Homo sapiens: one gene and its partners. The protein of the gene in region 2 interacts with the protein of the main gene of each other region in a pairwise test. Each region holds a gene or a part of one and is shown on either strand. Other genes may lie near its edges. The genes, in order: STARD13, ITPR1, TRPC4 and EPB41L1.

Region 1 (7,028 bases), on a different chromosome or scaffold from region 2:
CGGGGATTACAAATGTGAGCCATTGTGCCCTGTCACTAACAGCTTTTAATCATTCCATTAATCATGTGCAAATAAAATTAATGACAGCATTATTTTCTGTAGTTTACAGGTTAGTATCTTAAAGTGACAGCCACATCACTAAAATTGTTTGCATTATTCTACTTTAGAGCTTTAAGATTTAGAATTATGTTAATTTGATTTAAGACATCATTACTTATAATTTCTCATGGTTGTTGGGAACAGTGGAAACAAGTAAGTTGCTCCCCACTGACCTCATTATAGTGAGATAATCATTGAATGGCGTGCACATGATTCAATAGCAGATACACTCATGGGGAGGAAAAACAAGGAGGAGAAATAAAGGAATCTTTGATGATGCATAGAATCAGAATTCATTATCCAAACCCAGGATGAATCTAAACTTGCTCATCTTAGGGTACACATCAAAACATACATGCATCATTTCTCTAGCCTGTTTTTTAGTTCTGGGGTTGCAATTCCATTTCAAAAGAGAGGAGATGTTTAAAAGAGGGTGTTGTTTTGCAGAGTGAAAGTTTATCATAAGTCATACTGCCCATAATCCCTACCCCACATTCTTGCTTGAATCAATAGGGAAATTGTTGTAGAGAGAGAGAATGGAAATAAGAATGGTCCTTATTTGCCTCACTGACTGGCGCTTGGGAGTGGATAGGAGAGAGGATGCTGGGGGTGGTGGAAGACCATGTTAGGCCAAGGAAAGGGAGAATTGGATTTTTTTCTAATTTTTTTTATTGTGGTAAAATACACAATACATTAATTTTGCCATCTTAACCATTTTTAAATGTATGGTTCAGTGGTACTTAATACATTCATAATTCATAATATCCAACCATCACCGCCATCCATCTCCAGAACTCTTTTCATCTTGCAAAACTGAAACTCCATACCCATTAAACAAGAATTCCTCATTCCTCCTCCTCTCGGCCTTTGGCAACCACCATTCAACTTTCTGTCTCTATGAATTTGACTACTTTAAGTACCTCATATAAGTGAAATCATACAGTGATTCACTTTGTGTGACTGGCTTATTTCACTTTGTACAATGTCTTTGAGGTTCATCCATGTTATAGCACATGGCAGGATTGCCTTCCTTTTTAAGGCTGGATAATATTCCATTGTATATCTATACTACATTTCACTTTCTGTTTTTTTATTAGTAGCCATCTTAATGGGTGTAAGGTGGGAGAATTGGATTTCTATGTCATTATTTGATGGTTTTGATTTATTAGTTCTACATCATTATTTGGTGGTTTTGATTTAGTGCAACATGATGGATGCACCATGTTTAAAGTCTACATACACACACACACACACACACACACACACACACACATATTTGGAAAACCCAAATGTAAGTAGAAACATAAATGTGATTGCTTGCTTTGTGAAAGAACTTATCACACTATTATACTTTTTATTTTATTTTAAATGCTTAGAAAACAGCATAATCCGGATTGCAGTCAAGTCCACTGAAGTAGGATAAGGAGACAGGCATCCAGGCTCTGTATAGAAGCTCCTTCGCTCCTTTACAGCGTTGAGTTCCAGAGCTTCACTGGACCTTTGGTTTTTGATGAGACAATGAAGTGGATGGACTATGATTGCTCAAGTTTATTCTGTGTCTCAGGTTCTGGAATCCTCTCTGTGGTTAAGTCAGCAACTCTTTGAACAGGATTGTAGAAAGCAGGGGAACATAAACGTAACATACTAGAACCTAAAAAGGCAACAGAGCGGCTTTATTATGTGGAATATATCAGTGGCTTACAATTGTTCTACAGTTTCTCAAGGAAATGGTAAAGTGGAAGTTAGGTTTTTGTTCTACCTCAGCAACTAATTTATTGTGTGATCTGAGAGAAGTCACAGCTTCTCTAGACCTTTTTCCCTTCTTCCATTAAATAAAGGGTTTGGATTAAAGAATCTCTGAAGTCCCCATCATCTCTACATTCTAGGATTCTGCAATCACAAGTATTACCTTAAGACAAAAGCAATGCATATTTACATTTTTCTTATTATGTCATTCAGCATATACCTGGACATGCTTCCTTGAAACCTGTGTCATGCTTTCATTAATATCGATGTAATAGGAATGTTAGGAAGTCCAGTCTGTTGAACTATTTAAATGTCAGTATAACTATAATTATACAGAAACTTGTAAACACCTTTCTTTCTCCAAAATCCAGGCCTGTAAAGTGGAATTGTCTTGATGCCTGACCTATAGCAAGGATTGCAGCTACTGAAGGAAGTCCGTGTGTGTGCCTCTTACCTCACAATACAACCTCTTTCTTTTCTTGATAGAAAATGTGGAATGTAGAAAGTTTCACTACCGAGAAAGTAGTGAAAGTTAAACTGTCATTTGAGTTGCCATTCTATCTGAGGCTATTTTTAAGTAGATATGGCACCTGATTTGAACTCAACTGGAGTGGGATATACTGCCTTTTAAAAATTTCCCCAGAGAATGCCAGTGGGCATGAGTGATGTATTCCCCCTCATTACTATGTCAAAAGGCATCTTGGGAATTTGCCCAACCTAAGTGGTGAACATGGCCCATCCCCATGGCCCATACCCCCAGCAACTGGGTAATGTCAGCCTAAATTAAGCAATCATTTGTTCTTTTGGAATTGCCCTTTCTCTATGTTTAGTACTTTCTTGCCCGACTACTTTCAAACCTGGAGGGTGAATGCACTGGCAGAAAGACAGATGGAACACAGGAAGCAGGCTGAGAATGCATCAGTCATGTATTGCTCAAGTTCTGTCTGTTTGTTTTTTTTTTTAAGAGTGGCAACTGTCATAAATTCACATTTCATGAATCAGAGCCTCTTTCTACTCAGTGCTGGTGTTTGGAGGGCCTGTACAGAAAGGATACTGTTTAACCAAAATTACAGGAAAATCTGCTAAGTGAATTAAATTAACTAACTTTGACTAACATTTTAAAAATTACTACATAGTAAAACTAAAAGAAGTCAAGAAATGAGTACTGGGAGGAAATTAACAAAAGGACAATATGCTTGTAAACATATAAAACTTGAGAGTTTAACTTTAACCAAATTGTAGGTTCAATAGCTACACATCATTGCTTTATAACTCACACATTGGCCAGGGTGGCCAATCCATTGGAGTTGCCTGGAGCAGCACATGACACAGTAGCACAGGGTGTACAGAGATGGGTATTTGCCTTGTGCCTTCTTCTGTGCCAATCGTCCAGGAGTTACTCTGTTGGCAGAATGTTGAAACTTCTGTTGTTCAGATGCAGACAGTTGCCAAATTTGGGTTCTGTAACTTTAGCTTAAGTAAATAAAAATTCATTTTTTAAAATGTCTTTCCCTCTCCCACCTTCCCCAATCATCAGTGCTTTAATTCTTAGCAAATTTTGGACAATGGTCAACTCTTACAATGCAAAATTCCTCATTTCATTAGCAAATTAATCATGAACACAGAAACACAAGTTAGAAAAAACAGTCACTGCTAGTGGTCTTAATAGTATCAATTGATGACCTAAAACAGATTTAAAAAGAGAACAAATGATAAGTGGGTTTTGGCAAAACTCTTATATAAAGGGACATAAATAGATGGAGATTTAGTGGAGACATGTCATTAACAAGAGTACACACTTTCTCTGTGTTTCATTAGCTATGACAACAGGGTAGTGAGGCAATCAAGAAGACTTAAGAAGATAGGAGAACCTGAACATGCATTGCACACCAGATATTTGAATGATCTAAAGACCACATAAAAAATATTTGCCGTCTCCCTTGGAGCAATTGAAATATGATTTTGGTATGGGGAAAGATACTATATATTAATTTACATTCCACCTCATTACCTAGAGGATTTGAGGTCATTTATAGAAGAATATATAACTAAAGATTGCAAAAAAGATAAATCTGATGAAAAGAGAAATGTTGGCCAATTAATGAGGTAAAACTAGGAAGATATATCACATGGAAATATAAAATGTAAGGCCTTGAATAATAATCAAAAATGGGCTGCAAATTTGGCTTGAGCTTCCCTGATCTAAGCAAAGAGGAAAACACAACCAAGGGAAGATTTTCCCTGTTCTTAAGGTAAGAACTTACCAGCCAAGATTTTCCTGGGACTTGCTCTTTGGGAGAATTTTCTCCCAAGAACTTGACCTATGAGAGGAATTTCTCATACAAATCTCATAAAGGGAACACTGCAAGCTATAGTGAATGGTGCCTTCAACCATGCCTGCTGTGAATTCAGTAGTGAGTCTCATTTCTTATAACATCCTGCAGTGGAAATGGGGGCGTCACAATAAATTATAGTCCAGTAGAAATATTTGGGTGTGGGTGGGTGGGTAGGTAAAAACGAGAGGTCAGGTATGCAGTCTTCAGATTCTCTGTCTTAACCTAGAAATAGCATGGAGATTATCCACAGGCAATTTCTATAAGTCTGCTTCACAGAACACTAGGCCCATTAGACAGATATTCAAGGGAGAAAACATTTCTGTGGTTAAGTCATTTTTGGAAATGCTACATTCCCTTTCCCTTGGAAATTCAGACTTATGAAAGGCTCAGGAAAATCTTGCACAAAGTAGTTTAACTGTGTTTAAACTGGTATATTTCATCTTGAAACCACTTTTCACAGGATACTGGGAAGTCACATATTGCAAAACCAGCTTTCCCTGGGGAACACATTTTGGAAATGCTGATCTAGGAGAGTATGTGGCCTACGCTTCCCTTAGATAATTCTCTCTGAATATACTTCTTGCATAGATTTGGCAGTAGATACTTTGAAGTTGTGTTTTGGAGAGGAACATTGCAAGTATTCTATGTTTTCCAAAAAGGCCAGCCACAAATACTTTAAAAGTCAACTGAGTAAAGGCCAGATGACCATCTTTTTATGAAAATTAACAACCACACAAAGATTCTATCTTGGGTAGGCAGAACAGAAAGCTGAGTCGGTATATGGGTAGAGTTAATAATTATAACATCAAGAATACAACCATTCCTCAAATAACTCTACAAGATAGGTACTGTTGAGCCAGAAGGAAGAAATTATTGCCTTCTAGCTCTGGCTTTGTCTTACCATAATGTAGTTGAAGTCCTGGGTGAGGTCCAAATGGTTCTAACATTAATGTAGCTAATTCAGGATATTCCATTACTGCTGGGAAGTGGAGTCACTGCCCCACAGGAAAGAAGCAAGAAACTCTTCAGAAGTCTTAGAGTCTCCTTTGCCGTGGGTGACATGGGATATGGACTCACTGAAGCTCAGGCACTGATGGGTGGCTCCGAGAATTTCTGAATTCATGGTCCAAAAATATCTTTGGTTATATAAAGGCTCTCCTAGTATGACAGAAAGAAGTGAATGAAGTAAAATTATGTAGATAATTCTAATTAGTAAAATCTGCTTGCTTTAGTTATGGAGACAACTTATCAATTTCCAGGAAGTCTACAAATATATTCTTCAGATGTTTTTCCTCCTGCTGGCAAAGAGATACACATTAGCATTCACATTATGAATGACGCTTCTGGAGAGAAATCACACAACATCCAAAAACTCCAACAGAATGCATAGGGAATTACCATACTGCCTAGCCCAAGCCGCCACACTGTGAAGTCACTCAAGACCATGGTGGTCATTCTGGACTGGTGCAGTCTAGGGAAGGACCAAGTACCATGAAAATTTATATACTACTGTTTGAAAAGACATGAATTCTCTCTCTTTTTTTTTTTTCAGAAGCTTAGGATCTAAAATAATCTAAATGGAGAACTTGGAAAATAACTTCAAAATTACAGAAAATGCTAATGCTGTTAGCAAAAGAAAATCAATAGAAATAGATCTACAGTGTCTGGCTAGACTGTCAAATGATTTTCCTCACACAGCATAGGAATCCTGAGAATTTTAAAGGTCTGACAGAGGCAGAGCTTACTAAAATACAAATGATTTGTGTTGCTTTGCCTCCTAACAGTTGGATAAAACACAAGGGCGAAACAATGCAGAGAGATTGGAAAGGAACTTGGCAGTCACCAAGTACCTAATTTACATGTCAGGATTTCGAGCTGAAGTAGGCATTCTCTTCCTGCATTCCAACTCTCCCCTTCCTGCTTACTTCTGAAAATCATACATATGGACAGCAGGAACCTTTGATTAGTATTCAATCTCTATGAGTGAACAGTAGCATTTCATATACATTTATATTCACCAAACGACACACTGGATACAAAAAGTATGTATAGTCATAAAATCACATTTTCCTCTGAGAGTTATACCACCCTGAAATTATGTATAATATGTAAAATTATTATAAGAAATAAGAACGATTCACAAATCCTGCGTTAATGATATTCCAACGATTCTCACTCAAATAGACGGAGTTCTTATTTGAGAAAATTAAAGAATCTTCTCCAGATGCTTTGAGGGACACAACACATTTCCCACTACATGCATTTCTCAAAATAGAGTGTGAAATCCATCGCAAGGCCCTTACTGTCTGGACTTCTGTAAACCCATGCGTTATGTTTAACAGGTTCTTAATCATCAAACCACCTTCATTTTCACCATTGGTCTCTTTCAGATAGGAAAGTCTACTGACCTCCTTCCCTGAAAATTTGGATCCTCATATTAGCATTCCATTCCACTTGCTGTACTTTTAGTTGGAAGGTCTAAGGCAGACAAAGCTGCTTAAATATTTTTATCACTGACTTCCTAGAAGAAGGAGGAAAAAATCTTGGCAAGAAGAAGGGAAATCAGTCTTGCAGAATATCTTGAAGAAGCCTGCGAAGGAATTCCACTGACTGTGTTCATTATCTATTGGTCCCAATACTGAGTGGAATTTTTATGTGTTATCACTGGCCAGGGTGGCCAATCCATTGGAGTTGCCTGGAGCAGCACATGACATGGTAGCACGGGGTGTACAGAGATGGGTATTTACCTTGTGCCTTCTTCTGTGCCAATCTTCCAGGAGTTACTCTGTTGGCAGAATGTTGAAACTTCTGTTGTTCTTAGGAGCAAATAATTGAAACATGTTGGTT
Region 2 (7,028 bases):
CAGAGACAGAAGATGTGTGTGTTTGTATACACATATATCTACACATTCATCCATGTATCTTTCTATAACTACACAAATATATAATAAAAAGCATGTACTTACACTAATACTTCCAATTCCATTCCAACACCATAGGATTTATTCTAGCCTTCACCTTTTCCATTTCATGACTCCCTCCAGCTGCCACGATTCCCTGTATGTTTACCCATCTGCCCGTTTCCCTGTGTGTACCTGTCTCACCTCTGCCACCCACCTCCACGGTCCCCAGTGTCTCCTTGGCTCCAGCTGTAAGACCTGCCAGTCCTGCCACCTGAAGGGAAGGGAAGGGGAAGAAAGAAAGGAAGTGAACCAATTAATACTTTTAAAAGAAAAGGAAAGGGAAGATAAAGCAAGGCTTTTATTATTTTTTAATAAAATAAATAAAACTGCAGATAAAATGCCTTTTCTTGCCTCCTGTATTCTGTTCTTTCATTCATGTGTGATGTACGCATCCTATCCACATTCTCTGTGTGCTGCATTTGTATGCATCTGTAAATCATATGTAGTATTTTATCTCTACTTAAAATTTTATATAAATGGGACTGTACTCCAAATACCATTCTAAAACTTGCCTTATTTATTCAATACGGGTACTGAAGCCATATTGAATATATCTGCGTTAATAGAGATTAATCCATTTCTGTAATTTGGACTGTTGGATGATATTCTGTTTTATTGATTTATCACATTTTCATCGCTGTTTGATATTTGATCACATGCTGCAGTTCTTCATGTCAGGAAACATCTTCATTCAAATTTTTCTGAGTATATGTATGAATTTCCATTCCACACTGGGAGGTGGGCTTGGAGGATATTCATATTTTAAGCTTTACTAAGCAATTCTAAATTGGATGTGTCAGTGTACACACCCACCAGTTGTAGACGACAAGCTTTGTTTCTTCATGTCTTTGTTAACCTTGAATATCATGATGCTTTTTAATTTTTGGTAATTTTATAAGTGTGAAATAGACTCATGTCTACACTTGCATTTCCCCGACATCTAATGAGGCTGAGAATGTCTTCAAATCATGATTATTAGAAATACATAGAGTTTTTAATTCAGAAGGCAGTATTTTGAAAGCCTGTGGCTTTCTCGTTATTTCACATTTCAAGTATGTTTACTCTTTCAGTGTTTGATGAATCTTCTCCCAAGTGAATGAGAAAGAGTGCCTTAATTGGTCAGGTTCCAGTTAACAACATTCACTTGCAATTGGATGAAGATGAAAAGTGAGGAGTCTCCTACTTTTGTAAATGAAATGTTTTTTTACACGTGTAGGAATTAGAGTGACTTACATGATATAAGATCTTTAAAATGTTATAAAATTTCTAATTAGGCTGAATATGTGTGATATCTTGAACATTTCCTACATGGTCTTTACTGTATAAAACACAGCTGAAGGGAAAGAAATAGACAACCATCTTAGGCCTTAGCATTCCCCCCGTTTATTTTAAAAAGTAAACATTAAGGACCTAGTGGAATTAGGTCGTCACATAATTGCTCCAACACAGCTGGATAGACATGTGTTCCTGTTGGCTGTCAACCCACACTCTACTGCACAGCTTGAATAGTTCTTTTATCTGCTTGGTACCAAAGCCAAAATCCTGGTATACAAGAGCAATTTAGGGGTGTTGATGTATGAGTTTAGTTGGCCAAATGTCACTCCCATGACAGTCAGGGCTGCCCAGACGACCCTTCATTCATCCTGAATGATTTCTGGAGCGTGAGCTGTGTGCCCTTGTTCCTTCCTCTAGATATCAGCTGAACCTCTTTGCGAGGATGTGTCTGGACCGCCAATACCTGGCCATCAACGAAATCTCAGGCCAGCTGGATGTCGATCTCATTCTCCGCTGCATGTCTGACGAGAACCTGCCCTATGACCTCAGGGCGTCCTTCTGCCGCCTCATGCTTCACATGCATGTGGACCGAGATCCCCAGGAACAAGTCACCCCCGTGAAATATGCCCGCCTCTGGTCGGAGATTCCCTCGGAGATCGCCATTGACGAGTGAGCCTGGCACCTGAAAACCTCACTTTACATTATTCTGTGCGGCAGTAGATAGCCCCATATGGTCTCATTAAATCTTAGAAGAAAGATGAAGTGTTGGTTTTTTCTTCAAGCTTAAAATAAAATTAAGTGGATGGCAAATATTTTTTTCCTCAAGAATGTGAAAGATGGCATGATTATGTTTTTGGTTTTTGTTTGTTTGTTTGTTTGTTTGAGATGGAGTCTCACTCTGTTGCCCAGGCTGAACTGCAGTGGCGCAATCTCGGCTCACTACAAGCTCTGCCTCCCGGGTTCGTGCCATTCTCCTTCCTCAGCCTCCCAAGTAGCTGGGACTACAGACGCCCACCACCACGCCCGGCTAATTTTTTGTATTTTTAGTAGGGACGGGGTTTCACCGTGTTAGCTAGGACGGTCTCGATCTCCTGACCTTGTGAGCCGTCCACCTCGGCCTCCCAAAGTGCTGGGATTACAGGCGTGAGCCACCGCGCCTGGCCCCGATTGTATTTTTTATATCTCATTTATCTCCTCTTTCATTCTGCAAATATTTAAGTGTGTACTATGTGCCAAGCTCAAGAAATATATCAGTGAACAAACTAGAAAGCAATCTCTATGCTAGTTGGTGGAAGACAGACAATAGGCAAGATAAACGACTCAAATATATAGTTGGTGATATATGCTAAGGAGGGAAAAAATAAAGTAGGGTCAAGGGATGCCAAGGGTTAGGGGATGTTGACTTTTGAAGCTGAGTGACCCAGGAAGACCTCTCTGGGAATAACTTGAAATTTTGTTTCCTTTCTTTCTCCTTTCTTTTCAGCTATGATAGTAGTGGAGCTTCCAAAGATGAAATTAAGGAGAGATTTGCTCAGACCATGGAGTTTGTGGAGGAGTATTTAAGAGATGTGGTTTGTCAGAGGTTCCCTTTCTCTGATAAAGAGAAGAATAAGCTTACGTTTGAGGTAACTCATGATGAAATCTTCTATGTGTATTATCTGCCTCTCAGTGGTCATTTTTCTATGGGGCAAATAGAAAATATGTGAGTAGGTTGTGATTTTGGTCATGATGCTCTGGTTTTGTAATGGAAAGGAATTCAGCTTGGTTTTGTTCCAGAATAAAATAAAACGGATACCAGTCACATGGCTTAATAGTAGTTATGGGCTTAAAAGAAATATACAAGGTGACTTGAACCACATAAAATGATAGAACATCACTTTGTGTTAAAACTGACAAGAGAGAAACACTGTGCTTGCAATCTGCCATAGCTTAATCATTTGCAGAACATAAATCCTTGTTACTTCTGAGTTAACAACGTTTCTGAGACTGCTTTTGCCTTTTAAGAGCTGTATTGCTGAGGATCGCAGAGTGTTATTATCTGTGTCCTTATTGGGAATAACTCTGCTTGCCTGGTGTTAATATTATCCTTGGGAAGCTGTGTAGAGCAAATGATGAGGTCTTTTTTTTTTTTTGATTAGTCATCAGAGCAGATCAGTAGCTTTCCATTTCTTATTTTTCCTCCTTATGAAACAAAATGAAAATTTATCAGAAAGTGCAAGGAAAATACATGCCTTCTCTTACCATAAGGAAGGTCCAAGTCTGTCATTTCTAAACTGGTCAACATCAAATGGAATTGAAGGGGATGCAGTTTATGTAATACCGTCTTCTTCTTTTATTTTAATACAATAGGTTGTAAATTTAGCTAGGAATCTCATATACTTTGGTTTCTACAACTTCTCTGACCTTCTACGATTAACTAAGATCCTTCTGGCCATATTGGACTGTGTACATGTGACAACAATCTTCCCCATTAGCAAGATGGCGAAAGGAGAAGAGAATAAAGGTAACAATGATGTGGAGAAGCTGAAGAGTGAGTATCTGAGGGTGCCCATACATCTGAGAGATGCCCTCCAGCCTTTCCTGTTATGCTCATGTCATACCCTATATGTGATGCCACATCCTTTCTTTGTTCATTCCTTCCCAACTTTTCATCGTGAACATTTTCAAATACTGTGTAAAGAAAAGCGGAAAGAACAGTACGATGGAGTCCCACGTACCCATGACTTTGAGTCAACAGTTATTCACGTTTTGCTGAATTTTATTTTGTATTTATGTGTATTTATGTGTATTTTATTTTGTATTTATGTGTTTATGTATGAGTCGTGTGTATATTTTGTTGAACAATTTGAAAGTTACTTAACACTTTGAATGTTTATATAACAAATACATGTCCTATCATTGTTCTTGACATTCGTGAGACCCTTGATAATAATATTTGTTTAGGATGTAAGAAAATCCAGGCTTCTATCTTGGTGGCTATTTCCACTTTGTGAGAAGGACAATCTGCCTTTGCATGTTTATTTCTTCCTCGTTTTAGGGTCAGAGTAGGCAGATATTGGTATCATGTATCAATTATTGTTAACTGGTCTTCTGCAGCTAGAACAGAAAGAAATACATTGACTTATCTCTATTTGCTAGGTCTTGTGCTGAGTCATGTTGCATTATACCATTTAGTTCTTTTGTTGAGCTCCTTTATTTCCATTTTGTAGATGAGGAGACTGAGGCTTAGAGGTAGTATGGTGCACCTAAGGTCAAGCAGCATCAGGATTTGTACCTTGTTAACTTTATGTACCTAGTTCTGTGCTCATAACAAGCACATAGTTGATGATCAATAAAATTTGGGCAGGGCATAGTGATTCATACCTGTAATACTAACATTTTGGGAGGCTGTAGCAGGAGGATTGCTTGAGGCCAGGAGTTCGAGACCAGGCTGGGCAATATAGAGAGAACCTATCTCTACCAAAAAAAAAAAAAAAATTAGCTGGGTGTGGTGATGCATGCCTATAGTCCTAGCTACTTGAGACGTTGAGGCAGGAAGATTGTTTGAGCCCAGAAGTTTGAGGCCACAGGGAACCATCATTGTGTCACTGCACTCCAGCCTAGGTGATAGAGGAAGATCCTGTCTCTAAAGAAAATTAAAAAAAATAAAATTTGATGGGCAAGTTAGTGCACAGAAATGCCCCTCTGGGGATTTTGAAGCCCGTGATCTTTCTGTTGCTCTCAGAAGCCCAGATTTTTGATGTGCATTTACCTTTCCAGGTTTCCAGGGTCCTGAGATTATGTTGGAATAGGGATATGTTAAATAATTTCTCTCAAAGAGCCCCTGCCCCTTGACATATGCCTCTGAGCATTCTCTAGAGACATTGTGACCGTGGTCTCTCCTGGCCTTTCCTAGGCAGTAACGTGATGAGATCTATTCATGGCGTGGGAGAGCTGATGACCCAGGTGGTGCTCCGGGGAGGAGGCTTTTTGCCCATGACTCCCATGGCTGCTGCCCCTGAAGGCAATGTGAAGCAGGCAGAGCCTGAGAAGGAGGACATCATGGTCATGGACACCAAGCTGAAGATCATTGAGATACTCCAGGTATCCACTAGCTGGAGCTGGGGTAGGGAGGGTATGTCACAGAGGCGCCATTCAGATCCAGTCCCTCTGTTCTGATGGAGCCCAAGGCTTTCTGGGAAGAAAATGGGGGCAAATCCTTAGCTCATCCCTCCGTGTCATTTATGAGCTGGCTCCTCTTAATCCCTTTACTGCTTTCTCCTACCCTCCCAACATGGCCATGTCCCTCCAGCCATGTCAAGACTTGCCATTGTTATCTTAGCTTTCCATGATCATTGGCCTCCATGCCAACCCTCTGCCTAGAATTCACTTACCTCTGTGTCTCCATGTAGCTGCATCTCTGCTTATTGATCATAACTAGGTTCAGGGTTCCATCAACTTTGCAAAGCCTTCCTCCCTTCTTCCCTTTTTCATTCAATCAACAAATATTTATTGAGACCAACTCTGTGCCAAGTCCCCTTAAGCACTGGGAGGGTCCAGCAATGAAAAAAATAGATGAAATTCCTGCTTCTCTAGAATTTACATTTTGATAGAGGGGCATGGGCATGTATTAAGAATAAGTGCTAAGAGACGTTAAAAAGTAAAGGAGGGTCAGGATTGTTTGGAGACACTGAGGACAGGGGGCTGGGGTTATTGTGTTTGGTGAGGTTATCAGAGAAGGCCTCTCCAGTACAGTGACATGATTACACACCTGAATGAAGTGAGGAGATAGCCACACAGATATCTTGGGAAAGGGTATCTGAGGCAGAGGGAGCAGCAAACACAAAGACCCCATGGTGAAGAGGGCACATTTGGGAACAGGTGGGGTTCAAGAGGGAATGGGAGAAGATCAAGTCGGGGAGTAAATATATATAGCTTCTTGGACAGATTGCCTGTAAGGATGCACAGAGAAGTGGGGACATGGGCAGAGAGCGATTGTTGGTAACATGGTTTATTTTTGTTGTAATATTTTTTAAGTGGGTGGGTTATAACAAGCTTGTATGGTGAATAGGAATGATCATGTATACAGGGAGAGTTTGTTGCTGTTTGGGGAGAGAATAATTGTAAGAGCAAAGTCCTTCTGTAGGCAAGCGGGGGTGGAATCTAGTATATAGGGAAGGCTTGGTCGTAGGCATGAAACCCTCCCAAGCCTCTCTACAGCTTTGAACCCCACCCGACAACCTGCGCTTCCCTCTTTCTGTGCCGTGTAGGTAACTTTTATTCATCAACAAAATCATCTGCTCCTTAATGGAAAGAATTATGTGTTAGCACCTTCTTTTTTTTTATCCCATGTTGCCTGATCTCAACCCCAACAGATGTAGTAGAAATTCATAAATGTTTAAGATCTGGGGGTTTTATTTTTTAGTCTGAAATCACCCTTTACCAATGCTTTGAAAGTTTTAATGGGTTGTCTCAAAGTCATGTAATTAGGACGATAAAGACAGCTTAAGTAAAGGAGAAATCTTACTGAATTTATGCCTGAGCAACAGTAGAGAAAGATTCCTTTTTTAAAACTTTATTTTTTAATAAATTTTATTTTTACTTTTATTTTCAATTTTTTTTGTCGAGACAAAATATACATATAAAATTTGCAGGCCATGGTCCATGTGTTCCAA
Region 3 (7,028 bases), on a different chromosome or scaffold from region 2:
CTATTAAATAATTGCATACCTCTGTAAAGGATATTTTAAATCGATAATTTCATTCCTATTATCTTTAGTGTTTCTCATGAAACCAATGGATATCCTATATGGCCAGATGACTTTAAAATGTGTGTAATTGTCCACATATAAAAATGTACCTATATTTAAAAGTAGCATTAATGAAGTGTCATCATGAGTGTCGTTTTTCTCCATATGGTTTTCCTCTGATCCTTTTGTGGTTTCCTTCATTTTTCCAGCAGCATATTTCAATGTGACGTGAGTCATCATTTTTTTTTGCCATGCCTGTTTAACTGCCCTTATGTAGCATTAACTTTTCATAAATGCCTCTATGGCTTTGTGCCAGCAAAAATAAATAAACTAAAAGTGCTAAAGCAACATAGTGCAGTGCAATTCACTCAGGGTTGGGTGTCAGACAGGTGAACCTGTGTTTATTATATAAGGTCTTTAAAGTATGTGGAAATTGCAGATCAGATTGTAGACCTTCCACTTACTCACTGAGGAACTACATCCATAAAATGTGAATAATAAAGGGTGAGGGTTAATGTACCTGGCAGATGCTTACTAAATGGCGGCTATTATTATTTTCATCATTACCATCCCTAGAGTATAACCCAAAGGAAATCGTGCATAAACACATTGGTGACCTGATTCAGTGGAATTCACACTGCTGACTCGACTCAATGCTTGCTTATTTCTAATAAAACAGTAATGCTAGTTATGGAGCACCTCTTGTCATCTGGAAAATATACCAGAAAAGCACAGATGAAAAGAGGAAGCATGAGGCCAGCCCACTTATTTTTGCTGCCACATTTAGTCACTAGGCTGAATGATAGGAAAGCAGAAGCTAAAACACAGTAAAAACAAACAAAAGACAAAACCTAATTGAGGAATTAAAGGACTTCTACTGCAGAGAAAGAGCTTGGGTTTAAAACAAATCATTAGCTGTTTTTGAGTGTATTTCTTGATTATTTTGGACCTCAACATCTCTGAGAAAGCAAAGAAAATAGTGTCAGCTGGAAAATAAGTTGGGCTTATTTAAAAGAAATAAAGACATTCATCAAGTAAAGAGTTTCCATAACCACCTATTTTAAGATGCTGTAAAATGTCATAATTCAGATTAAAAAAAGAATAATGCATCATATTGGAAAGTTTTTTTTTCCAATTTTGTCTGGTCTTTTTGTAGGGGAAAAGACCATATCTCTCCTACAAAAAAAAAAAAACCCGGCCAAGGACATATAAACCCTGTTCCATATTGCTATAGCATGGTGTATGAAATTCACAGACTTGAACAAAAGAATAAATATTCATCACCTCTGCCTTTTTTTTTTTTAGGTGCCTCCTATACTCCTTGATAAGCAGTTCTCTGAATTCACTCCAGACATTACACCAATCATTTTGGCAGCCCATACAAATAATTATGAGATAATAAAACTCTTGGTTCAGAAAGGAGTCTCAGTGCCTCGACCCCACGAGGTCCGCTGTAACTGTGTGGAATGCGTGTCCAGTTCAGATGTGGACAGCCTCCGTCACTCACGCTCCAGACTCAACATCTACAAGGCCTTGGCCAGTCCCTCTCTCATTGCACTGTCAAGCGAAGATCCTTTTCTCACAGCCTTTCAGTTAAGTTGGGAACTTCAGGAACTGAGCAAGGTGGAAAATGAATTCAAGTCGGAGTATGAAGAGCTGTCACGGCAGTGCAAACAATTTGCTAAGGACCTACTGGATCAGACGAGAAGTTCCAGAGAACTGGAAATCATTCTTAATTACCGAGATGACAATAGTCTCATAGAAGAACAAAGTGGAAATGATCTTGCAAGACTAAAATTGGCCATTAAGTACCGTCAAAAAGAGGTGAGTGTTGCCAGACTTGATCCATCAAAATGCCATAGAGTTTAATCACAGTGAAGCAAACTGCTACTCACAAAATTAGTTTTGGGTTTTAGAGCATTTTCTATTCAGCTGTAAGTGGATGACATTTATTGTCTACCGGATTAATAATTATGAATCACATTGAAGAGTGGTAATAAATGGTTTAATAATTGATGTTTTTGGCCTCTGTCTTAAAATGTACACATTGACTGTGGTATAATGGAAAAACTAATGAATTTTAGTATGTCCAGACTGAGATTTCTGGCTCTGCTATTTATAAGTCTTGTAACTTTAGGGGGTCACAGATAGATTTCCTTAAGCTTCAGTATTCTCACCTGCTGAATGGATTTAATATTTGAAATTATATATATATATATATACGTATATATACATATATACGTATATATATACATATATACGTATATATAAGTGTGTGTGTGTGTGTATATATATATATATATATATATATATATATATATATACGCATATATATATATAAATAATCAGCCTTCTGTATCTGCAGGTTCCGCATCCTTGGATTCAACCAAATGTGGATGGAAAATGCAGCATTCATAGGATGTGGAACATTCAGATATGGAAGGCTGATTTTTTCCTATCCATGGGTCCCGTAGGGCCAACTGCTGCAGGGCTAGAGCAGCCATGGATTTTGGTATCCACATGAGGTCCTGGAACCAATCCCCCACAGATGCTTGGGGACAACTGTATATATAGACAACATTTTCCTCACAGGTTTTTAGGAAGTGTAAAATATGTGGATGTGTGAAGACTCTTAGTAAATTATATGGTATTGTTTTATTTATATCAGTAAATACTTATTATAAAGTGTTAATAAAATAAAAGACTTTAGTACAATAGCAGATGTAAGTACTAAAACTTTTCTCATATCTTGCTCATTTTTTTGATTTGTCAGGAATAAGAAACCAAGTAAGTTCATCGCAAGGGAGTAATAAATTTCTTGTAAAATTTCCATATATTAAAAATGCTGTATTAAATAACAGAATCTCATACTTCTTACCCTTAATCAGCCAGCATAATTGCTTTGTGTTTGAGTGAGTTCTCAAAAGACTGTTTACATCTATCTGAAGAAAATATTGGTTCTCTGTTCACTCTTAAATGATAGTAATTATCTATTCCAGAACAATACTTGGAAATGCTATGTAAGATGAAAAGAGAAAGAGAAAAAGTGAAAGACTTCTGAATTGTAAAATGTACTCAGTTTCTTTTGAATTTGGCCTTAATGATCCCATATAAGCCCTGGCTGCTTTGTCTGTTGCTACTCACTAAATACTCAAGGTTCAAGATACCTGAACTTGCTTTCTCAATTTTTTCCTCTAGTTGTGTGATTAGTTAAGCTAATCTGGTTGTCATGGAAGCCTGAAACAAGGTGAAATGAACTTTTCCCTTAATACTGAAGTGAACAGCTTCTTTTGTGTCCATTCCCTCTAACTCTAAAATCACATTTGCTATTTTGAGTCCTTGTCAGCAGTATTAACTCATTTTCTTAGGTTTTTATGTTTTGGACTCAGAGATCTAATATTTTAAAGAAACTAGAGTAATTTTACTACACAATGATAAGATACATTGATGAAAGATGTTCAAAGTGGTAAATGGGAAGATAAGAAGTCATTGCAGGCTTTAGACTTGAAAGATATTGAAATATTGATATGGCCTAAATCTTCTTAAAGATCCATATTAGCACAGTAGTATGCTTTGCTTTCTTTAGTTTTTCTTTGGAGAAGGGGGTTTAAAGAATCGACACGATGATTGCAAAGATTTTCTCTTATGCCATAGCTGTTCACTGTTAATATTATCCTACAAATGTTGAATGGAGTAAAGTTCCCAAGATGTACAATTCATGAAATGAAACAGAGAATGCAGAAGCAGCCTGCTCTGCTCACCTGTTGCTCTTTAGGTCTCTCTGCAGCCAGTGAATGAACTCAGATTTATTTTTTGCCTGCACTCATTTTGGTCATGGCATTGAAGCTGATTTAACGTCATCTTTGGCCACAATAACTTTTGTGAAAGCCTGGGAACAAAGTACTCATAAACTCCTTTACCATATCCTCATAACAGAATGCTGTCAATGATATTGCATTAACTGAAGCTGCCAAATTCCTGTCAAAGAGTTGTTCGAGATAGAAATTGTAATTTGAATTTCTTGCATATTTATATTTATATTTTTACCTGCAAAGTAATTAATACACTTTGGTCATGCATTAATTTCCTTAATAACTGTTTCAACATATATTTCATAGAACACATTCCAGGAAATGCACGGGGCACTTGGGATTCCCAGGTGTCAGGTCTCTGCTCTCATAGAGCTTATAGCCTATTAGGAGAGACAATGAAACATTGAATATATATTCTCCATTTTGTTCCTGAACCACTAAAAATGTTCTTCCTTACTGAACGTGTTTTCTTTGCTTATGTTCTTCTGTATATGTTATAAATATAAAAAGTGGTTTCAATGTCAAAACCTATGAAAAAGCCATAACTCTAATCCCATCTTCAGTATCTAAGAAGCAAAGCAATGGAAGGCATTTAATAATTTCCAACACTTCTCTCAAGATGTTTGTATTCTTGCTAATATGAAGTTATGGAAGGGTGATAAAGCCTAATAATACAAGATAAAACATAACAAAAAACATATAGCATGTAACAAAAAAATAAGAATTGGTGCTATTTTTTAAAAGACACTTTTCTTGTAGATATGGGGTCTTGCTATGTTGCCCAGGCTGATCTCAAACTCCTGGGTTCAAGCAATCCTCCCCAAAAGATACAATTTTAAAAGACATTGTATTGGGATTTTTTTCCTTTCAAAATGTTTTGAGATTTCAATGGAGAAAAAAATGAAAACGAAATTCTTACAGAGTTGTTCTGGAGTATCTTGCATTTACTATCAAAGAGAATATTTTTCTCTGATTGAAGATTTTCCCAAAGCAAAATAACATTGGATAACTGATAGCATTATTTAAAAAATTCAGGAATAACATTTTACTTTCATATATACCTTTTAAAATCATAAGTTGTGTTTTACCGCATGTATTCTTAGGTTATTCAGAAATTATTAAATTCAAATATTAAAGGTTTTCTAGTAAGATCATGTGCCTTAAAGAAAATTCTGCTTTAGCATGTCTTGCTTCATATCTTTCTTACCAAAAGTTTTCCTTGGTTTGGTCTAAATAAGTCTGAGATTTATCTTTAGTCCATCTCTCAGGATTTGGAATGCTTTCTCATTAACCTTCATTCACATAGCTAAGTCCTGCACACTCTTTAAAGGTCATCTCACGTCTTGTCTCACCGCAGGAGCATTCTATGAAGCAAACCCCTCCATAGACTCTCTTGGATAAATGTCCTCATTATACACACCCTATATTGCATTGTGTTATTACTTTTCCATCTCCTCCTCTAGGCAGTGTCAGGAACACATCCATCTTACTCACCAGTCATACTGTAGCCCCTGACATACAGAAGGTGCTCAGTAATGAATGCACCTGAATGAAGTCACAGATGCTCTTAGATCTGGATGGTTCCCTGCATGTTTCTTTGCCTGAATAAATTGCACTATTTGGGTTAATCTCCTAATAACAGATTCCTTATGAATCAACATATTAAAACAATTAATGTTGGCAGGATTTGATTGCAGACTTGTTCTGGTACTTCTCTAATCTCATCCAAAGAGAAAGCTCTGTGTTAATTTCATGCCATAGATATTTTTACATTTTCATTTTATATATTCTTTCTAAGCAGCAGCATCATAGAAAGAAGAATTGTATTACTTCTATTAATTCTAGGCTAATGATGCTGCAATTGTACTGATCATATATTAGCAGAACAAACATCTTCTATCAATTCAAATGAATGTATTTTAGCAACTGGGTTAAGTTGTTTACATGGTTTATTATATTAAACCTCCAAATACACTTCTGAAGTATGAACTATTTGTTGCTGTTTTTTTTTTTTCATGAAAAAATCGGAGTCACAGAGGGTTATATAATGTGCAGTGTTACTCTGTTAAATATTGGGGCCAGATTGCAAATCCAGATCTTAACTACAAAAACTTGGCTCTAACCATCACACCATATTGCCTCCACCCAGACATCATCCTGCTGAACACTGGGTAAACCTGAGAAAACTGACGCTGCTAGCCTAGTTTTGTTGAGCACATGAATTTATTTCATGACTCAGCTCGCCCGTAATGAAAGCCTTGCATTTTGACATGAAGTTTTCTTTGCTTTCACGTTGTGATGAAGCACTTGATTTCTCCAAAGAGTGTGAAGCCTACTTTCCCTTTCTTTCTTACTCCACTTTTACGTTTCTGTGTCAAACAATAATCTTTCAAGTACCATTCTGCGATGGGACAGGTTTAAGGTTTAAGGTTGCTCCCTTGACCAAGCACTCCCATCCCGATGCCAATCATCTAAATGAATAATAACAAAGGAAACTGGAAACAAAAAGCATGTAGTCATACCCTTAAAACTGATTCTTGCCCTGTGTGTAACATAAAGGCGAGGACGACTGAGGACATGTCTTAGACAAAAAACTTGTCCCTTGGTTTCTGGCATGATTTTTGCAGATGCAGAGTCTGTGGCAGTTAAAATTACTTCCATGTAGTCATTCCTCTTGCCTAATATTTGTAAGATTACTAAATGTGAATTGGAAGCTTAATACATTTCTTAACTATTTTTTACAGCAAAGACCTTCCGTAGTTTTTGTTACATGATTGACAATATTGTGAAGTAAGTAATTAAAAGGTAGAGTAGCCTAGATGTCAAATAAAAATAAAAAGCAAGGAAATAGATTATTTGTCTAAAAACATTACAATTCAAACTCTCTATAGCTTTTCAATATATTTAATTTGCCTTTCCCTTTCATGAAGGTATTTCAGCAGCTTTGCAACATTAGCTTAAATTTTGGAACTAATTTGGGTTTCGTCCTACACATTAATGGGATTGTTAAAGGAGAAAAATCAACATTTGAACAGCCCGCTGCTCATGACCTCCTAACCTTCTGTTTATCCAGTCTTGGGGGAATGGAGAAAATGTGAAGAGATTCATGTCAATCAGACACTATCCATGGCATGGTAAACTAAATTGATTCAAAATGTTCCACAATTACAGCTCTTT
Region 4 (7,028 bases), on a different chromosome or scaffold from region 2:
GGACAGACGTTTGCTGAAGGCTGGGAAGATGCCCAGTGGGGAGTGGAAGGAGAGTTTCCCCACCTGACAGCCAGCGCAGCCCGAGAGGAAGGGACCCCCGTGAGTGGAGATTTGCTGGGAAAGGCTGAGGAAAGTCCCACAGAGGAACTGAAGAAGCACCCTCCTCACAGAGGACAGGGCGTGCATCCCGACCCCCAGGCCTGCGCCCTTCCTCGGGCCATCCCTCTGAATGTCAGGAAGCCAGTCAAACCAGACAGAGGCAACTTCCCACCCAAAGAGAGGGGAGTGGTTCCCACCCAGAAAGGAGGGGCTGAGCTGAAGGACCGCGAGGCTTCAGCATTTCTTCACATGGAGGTGATCATTCCCCTGCCAGCCTCCCCTGGTCATTCTGAGGACCTGGCAGCTCTGGAGGAAGCTTCTCCAAGCCCAACCTCCCATGGGTCAGGGGAGCCTTCGGAGCTCAGGGAGCCCTTTCTTAGACATGTCCATCTTTCGAAAGCCAGCCCAGAGCCCAAGGACCAAGTAGGGTTTGTGGTGTCCCCTGCCACAGGAGGTGAGCGCAGGCCTCCTCCCATCACCAGCAGAAAGCCCAGAGTAGTCCCTGAAGAAGCTGAGGGGCGCATACCTCTGGGGTTTGGGTTCCCTTCAGGGAAGCGAAGGGAGATGACCTCTTTCCAGGCTGGGGACCAAGAGGGCTCCCTAGAAGATATTAGCAAGACCTCAGTGGCCAACAAAATTCGGATATTTGAGACCCACGGAGCTGAAACTCGCCGAATGAGTGAGGGTGAAGCAAGGTCCCTTCCAAATGACGTATCTTCAGAGGCACCCGTGGGACAAGCAGAGCAGCAGCGGAGTACGCTCTCAGACCTGGGCTTCGCCCAACTCCAGCCCCCAGGGGACTTTGCCAGCCCCAAAGCCACACATTCCACAGTGATACCTCTGGCTACCAGACACTTCAGGGAGGACACTTCTGCATCCTACCAGGAAGCACACACGGAACTAGAGCCCGTGTCCCCCAATTCAGGCTGTGAAACCACGCTGGCAGAAGCTACTGGAACTGGGGTAACTGGCCGCGTGAGCCCCCGCCCCCACCGCTGCTCCCCGCCCATGGGGGCTGGCCGCATGCTCTGTAGTTTTTAGAAGCATGTTTCAGTGGCCCCTCGTCATTTCTGCAATCAGAGGCTGCTTATCCATCCCTGTGAGTTTTTTCCCTAAACGGGCCTGGGTGTAGCTCAGGCTGAATGATGGGCTTCTCTGCTTGGCCCATGTTAGCTTGGCCACAAAGACCCTCAGCTTTTGGTGTGACCTGGTGCCCAGAGGGTCACACAACCCCCATGGAGAAGGTGGCGCCACCACCAGCAAATGACACACCTGCTTTGCCTTGCCGCTCATACCCGCTGGGTTCCTGCCTACCTTGCTTGGCTTGTCCAGCGATCTTTCTTCATCCTTTCCCATCCCTGGTTCTCCCGCCTTGGGAAAGTTGACAGTCCAGAGGTTTCCATCCTTCACTTCTGGTTCCCTCTCAGTCCCAGTGCCAAGTTTCTTTCTGCCTCCTTAAGACTAACTGTCTTCTCTAATCCAGAACAAATCCGGAGATGCGGTCAGGGAAGAGAAGCGCTCCACCAACTTAGCAGCCAACACCCCTGGGAAGGGGGGGCGCCTGAGATTTGCCAGCCCCTCGGGCCCTCAGGTCTCTGCAGCCCCTCTGTGCCCTGATGACCCAGTCACCTTCACCCGGCCAGGATGCATCGCCGCCTTAGGTTCCCACCTGCTGTGGCAGCACCTCTCGTGCTGCTCAACTCTGGCTTGTCTGGAATGTCTCCCTCACACCTCTCAACCTTCCAGAAACTGGCTAAATGGAGGCTCGCTTAGCAAGTGAATGTCTAAGCCCACTGAATCCCTAGAACCAGAAGCCAAGTTCTTTACAAATCTTTCATGGGTATTAGGTTGGTCTTTAAAAAGAATGTTATGAACCAGCCAAAAATGTGTGTGTGGTGTTTAATCCCTGACAGGCCAGTTGAGAGGTATGTATGTCGGACAAGAGTTGCTGGTTCCCCGAGGCACTGCCTTGGCCCGCTGTTGTCAATTACACTGATGGGACCAGAGCCTCTACTCCCTGACTTGCCTGTGGTCCACTCATGGAGCCCAGGGTGGAGCTGGCGTAGCACTCAGCTCCCAAGAAGCTCGTGCCCAAAAGGCCTGACCCTGAATTGCTCTTCTCTCTAGTCGATGCTGACCCCTCCCCCGGAGACTCAGTGGAATTGACAAACATGTTGGCTTCCTCTTTTGTTCCTCAAAGTTCTTGGCTCCAACCTCTCTGCCTTCCCTTCCTGGGTCTCCCTGAATCCCTGGATCTCCCTCCTTAGTTTCTGTTTCTCAACGCCCACCTGCACGGATGGGCCTGGGGTCCGGGCTTCCATCCCTGCCTTTCGTGCAATGCTGCTTCCAATAAGCTCCCAGATCCAATACCCTTGGATGGAGCCTCCTGTCCAGGAGTCACTGGCAGGACGTTTGCTTTGTACTTGCTTTTGCCATCAGTGTGAGACCCTCAGAAAGGGGCATCTCCACTCTTGAGTCGTTTTTGTTTTTTTTATGCTTGTTATGATTTCAAGGAACCTTTCCTGGGGTGTTTTTCATTTCCTGGCCTGCTCTTCCATTCAGGATGTCGACACAGCCCCGAGATTTCTCCTGACATTCACCATCTTGATTTCTCTTTCTCTCTCTCTCCCCACCCCACATCCCCATTCTTTTGATTTTATCTGGCCATAGAGAGCAGGGCTGAGGGAGGGCTCCGAGGAGAAAGTCAAACCACCACGTCCCCGGGCCCCAGAGAGTGACACAGGCGATGAGGACCAGGACCAGGAGAGGGACACGGTGTTCCTGAAGGACAACCACCTGGCCATTGAGCGCAAGTGCTCCAGCATCACGGTCAGCTCTACGTCTAGCCTGGAGGCTGAGGTGGACTTCACGGTCATTGGTGACTACCATGGCAGCGCCTTCGAAGACTTCTCCCGCAGCCTGCCTGAGCTCGACCGGGACAAAAGCGACTCGGACACTGAGGGCCTGCTGTTCTCCCGGGATCTCAACAAGGGGGCCCCCAGCCAGGATGATGAGTCTGGGGGCATTGAGGACAGCCCGGATCGAGGGGCCTGCTCCACCCCGGATATGCCCCAGTTTGAGGTACAGTGGAGCTTCCTCAAGAGCCAGGCCCGCTGGGCACCGCATGCTCAGAGGGCCCTGGGCCACCCGTGAGAAGACCGAGCACCCAGCCTGCAGCCTGAAGCTCTGTCTCGTGTTGCATGACTGCCCCTCCGCAGAACAGCATGGTTCTGTGCTCGCATGTTTGCCATCTCGGTTTACCCCTAACACGCGCTCCTTGGTATTTTAACCCTGTGACCCCATCGCTTGCTGAAGTCGAGCGATGACAGGTAGTCTGGTCTTTCTTGACCCCATGCCCCCCCACCTGTGTTGCATGGCACCTGCAGAGAGCATGCGTCTGTGGACTCTTGGGGGCTCCTGCAGCCTGGTCTGAAAGCTGAATGGTTTTTCCTGATCCGGGCCCAGGCTTGTCTCTCTGGGGTCTGGGCTTCCCGGGGAAGGGGAAGCAGTTTAAATCCATCTGGCCCTGGGGTCTCAGGGTGGTAATGGAAGCTCCTGGAAGAGAGGAAATGTGGTCATTGAGGAGGGACAGACTGTCTCTGGGCCTCTCTGTGGTCTCCTCTGTAGAGCTGTGAAGGGATTTCTCTAAGGCACGCCTGCCCATATCATTCCTTTGCCCCCTCATCTCTTCTAGACCCAACCTCCCTCCTACACTCTCCTTTCCCCAACATTCCTGGCATTGAAATATGAGCTTAGCCACTCTGGGCTCTCACTTCATGCTATATTCTCTGAGCAGGTTTTTTTTTCTCCCTTTCGGTGCCTTACAAACCTATCATGTTCCAGGACCAAGTTCAAATGTCAGTTTCCTAGCAGGGGTTTGCTTTCCTGACCACCCTGGGCAGAAATATCGCCCCCCTACCCCCTTGCCCTGTAATGCCTATGCTCCAGCACTATCCAAAGCGGTCAGGTCAGTGGCTGACAAGCCTGCTCTCCCACCAGGTGGCAGCTCCTCTAGGCCTGGCATATACTAGGCACTAATAGATGATTAACTGGATGAATGGCTGGGTTACAGGGTTGCAACCATCTATAAGAATCCCCTTCAGCCAGGCACAGTGGCTTGTGCCTGTAATCCCAGCTACTCAGGAGCTGAGGCAAGAAGGCAGGGGGATCACTTGAGCCCAGGAGTTCGAGGCTACAGTGAGCTTTGATCGTGCCACTGCACTCCAGCCCGGGCGACAGAGTGAGACCTTGTCTCTTAAAAACAAAACAAAACAAGAAAAAAAAAATCTCCAGGCACAGTGGTTCACACCTGTAATCCCAGCACTTTGGGAGGCTGAGGCAGGTGGATCACCTGAGGTCAGGAGTTCAAGACCACCCTGACCAACATGGTGAAACCTTGTCTCTACTAAAAATACAAAAATTAGCTGGGCGTGGTGGCACCCACCTGTAATCCCAACTACTCGGGAGGCAGGAGAATCACTTGAACTCAGGAGGCAGAGGTTGCAGTGAGCTGAGATCACGCCATTACACTCCAGCCTGGGCAACGGAACGAGATTCCATCTCAAAAAACAAAACAAAAACAAAAACAAAACTATACTCAGAGGTCATAGTCACAGCTTGCCATACCCAAATGGACCCCACATGCTCTCTACTTCACCCCAGTCCTCAACAAACCCTCTTCACTCATTGACATCTCCTGCCTGGATGCTGTAGGCCTCCAAGCATGTGTGGCTCTTGCTCTAAAGAAGAGTCCAGGCTGGGCACGGTGGCCCACACCTGTAATCCCAGCACTTTGGGAGGCTGAGGCAGGTGGATCACTTGAGGTCAGGGGTTCAAGAACAGCCTGGCCAACATGGTGAAACCCCGTCTCTACTAAAAATACAAAAGTTAGCCGGGTGTGGTGGCATGAGCCTGTAGTGCCAGCTACCTGGGAGGCTGAGGTAGGGGAATCGCTTGAACCTGGAAGGCAGAGGTTACAGTGAGCCGAGATCGCACCATCGCACTCCAGCCTGGGCGACAAAGGGAGAGTCTGTCTCAAGAAAAAAAATAGAAGAGTTCAGCTGAAGCGGCTGAGAGGTGGTGAGCTCACCAGGATTTGGTGACATTATGTACACAAGGAAAACACTTAGCCCAGGGCCTGTCATAGAGTATGTTAATGAAATGGTAGATGTTCTAATAGTAGCCTAAAAAACAGCATATAGCCACCATGAGGGTGTGTGGCACAGGGGCGCAGGGCAGGCCTGCCTGGTCCTGGTGGTGGTCCTGGCTCTCCTCGCGGGCTATCTGTCTATGATATCACACCACAACTCTTTTACCCTGTCCAGAGTACCCTTCCAGAGATGTGGCCAGCTGTGGGGATAGGAGATAGCCTGCAGACACCACACTGCAATTGTCTGTGAGCAAGGGTCATGCTAGGGTTTCAGTTACAGAGCATTCTCCCTCCTTTTCCTACAGCCCGTGAAAACAGAAACCATGACTGTCAGCAGTCTGGCCATTAGAAAGAAGATTGAGCCGGAGGCCGTACTGCAGACCAGAGTCTCCGCTATGGATAACACCCAGGTAACTTGTGCCTTCCAATGTACCCTAAGCATGGGTATTGGGCATTTGGTGGTAGGGTCCCCACTGCTGTGGCCAAACCCCTTGGCCAGCTCTTTTAATCTCAGCTTCCCTGGAACCCATATGTTAATCCTGATGCTCTCCTGTGCCTCAGTGTCCTCTCTGAGCTCTGGGGAGGGGCAACGGGTAAAGCAGGTTCCTGTCCTGGGCAGACCATACTTCTTAAAGCCTCCATTTAGCCATCCATAAAATGGGAATGACCCTGTCTACCCCTTCCTCCTGGGCATATTGGGAGGACTGTACTGACTAGTGGATTGGGACCTTGGTGTTCACATTGCTTGGAGGAGTTGGAGAGGTTTCTTGAGGTATCTCAGGGGCTGCTTGAGGAGAGAAGAGGGAGAGATCCCAATTCAGCTTCAGTCAGAATAGCTCACCTTGGGTCATTTTTTATGCATTAGAGTTCCACATCAGATCAGTAAAATGAACAAAGTGAAAGAAGAAAACCGAAGATCATGTGTCTTGACAAGAAGCAGCATCCTGACCACCTGGAGAAAGCCGTCAGGCATAGGCACAGGCCCACGACTTCCAGTCCATTCCCTGCACTCCTTCCATGCTTTTTAAACTTAGGAAGTTAAGATTGAGGATCTGATAGATGCCCTCCTGGTTTTTCCTGGCCAGAAGAGCTACAATGCTAGGAGCTTTTTTGCTCTGAGACTAACCTTTTCCTGAAGAACTGAAATAAGACCAGGCACAGTGGCTCACATCTGTAATCCCAGCACTTTGTGAGGCCAAGGCAGGCAGATCGCTTGAGCCCAGGGGTACAAGACCAGCCTGGGCAATATAGGGAGACCCCAGCTCTACAAAAAATACAAAAATTAGCTGGGCATGGTAGCACATGCCTGTAGTCCCAGCTGCTCGGGAGGCTGATGTAGGAGGATCACTAAAACCCAGGAGGTCGAAGCTGCAGTGAACTATGAGCTATGATTCCACCACTGCATTCCAGCTTGGGTGACAGGGAAAAAAAGAGAGAGAAAGAGAAAACTGAAATAAGACATAAACCAATACAACATGGGCAATTCTTTTGTTTCCAGATTTCTTTCTCCCACTTTTATAATGATGGTAGGAGTTTATGAGGCCGTCTACTACAGGTCAGGACTCTTGAGTTCTGATGAGCTGTGTGACCTTGGGCAAGCTGCTTCCCCCACTGACCTGTTTTGTTTTAGTAACACGTGTTTCTGTTGTGTTTTCATACAGAAAAGTATAAAGAAACTAAAATTGGCCCTAGATCCCACAGCCCAGTAACCCTTATTGACATAAAAACAAAACAACAAAAAAAGTTTATAGTTATACAATTCAAGCAGAACAAAATGGGA

Evidence for each region.
Region 1: the proteins of ITPR1 (region 2) and STARD13 interact in a two-hybrid assay, tested with the Homo sapiens proteins (one study listed by BioGRID and IntAct).
Region 3: the proteins of ITPR1 (region 2) and TRPC4 interact in a two-hybrid assay, tested with the Homo sapiens proteins (one study listed by BioGRID).
Region 4: the proteins of ITPR1 (region 2) and EPB41L1 interact in a two-hybrid assay, tested with the Homo sapiens proteins (one study listed by BioGRID).

What each region holds. Positions count from the first base shown.
Region 1 is NC_000013.11:33,275,751-33,282,778, reverse strand, and holds part of STARD13 (stAR-related lipid transfer protein 13), read left to right. Parts: intron 1-1,444; exon of another isoform or gene 1,445-1,750; intron 1,751-3,122; exon of another isoform or gene 3,123-3,318; intron 3,319-5,082; exon of another isoform or gene 5,083-5,225; intron 5,226-7,028. UniProt on the Homo sapiens protein: GTPase-activating protein for RhoA, and perhaps for Cdc42. May be involved in regulation of cytoskeletal reorganization, cell proliferation and cell motility. Acts a tumor suppressor in hepatocellular carcinoma cells.
Region 2 is NC_000003.12:4,671,345-4,678,372, forward strand, and holds part of ITPR1 (inositol 1,4,5-trisphosphate-gated calcium channel ITPR1), read left to right. Parts: intron 1-1,791; coding exon 1,792-2,043; intron 2,044-2,857; coding exon 2,858-2,999; intron 3,000-3,723; coding exon 3,724-3,904; intron 3,905-5,269; coding exon 5,270-5,457; intron 5,458-7,028. UniProt on the Homo sapiens protein: Inositol 1,4,5-trisphosphate-gated calcium channel that, upon inositol 1,4,5-trisphosphate binding, mediates calcium release from the endoplasmic reticulum (ER).
Region 3 is NC_000013.11:37,740,772-37,747,799, reverse strand, and holds part of TRPC4 (short transient receptor potential channel 4), read left to right. Parts: intron 1-1,344; coding exon 1,345-1,863; intron 1,864-7,028. UniProt on the Homo sapiens protein: Forms a receptor-activated non-selective calcium permeant cation channel. Acts as a cell-cell contact-dependent endothelial calcium entry channel.
Region 4 is NC_000020.11:36,206,719-36,213,746, forward strand, and holds part of EPB41L1 (band 4.1-like protein 1), read left to right. Parts: coding exon of another isoform or gene 1-1,062; intron 1,063-1,582; coding exon of another isoform or gene 1,583-1,690; intron 1,691-2,769; coding exon 2,770-3,180; intron 3,181-5,553; coding exon 5,554-5,658; intron 5,659-6,618; exon of another isoform or gene 6,619-6,658; intron 6,659-7,028. UniProt on the Homo sapiens protein: May function to confer stability and plasticity to neuronal membrane via multiple interactions, including the spectrin-actin-based cytoskeleton, integral membrane channels and membrane-associated guanylate kinases.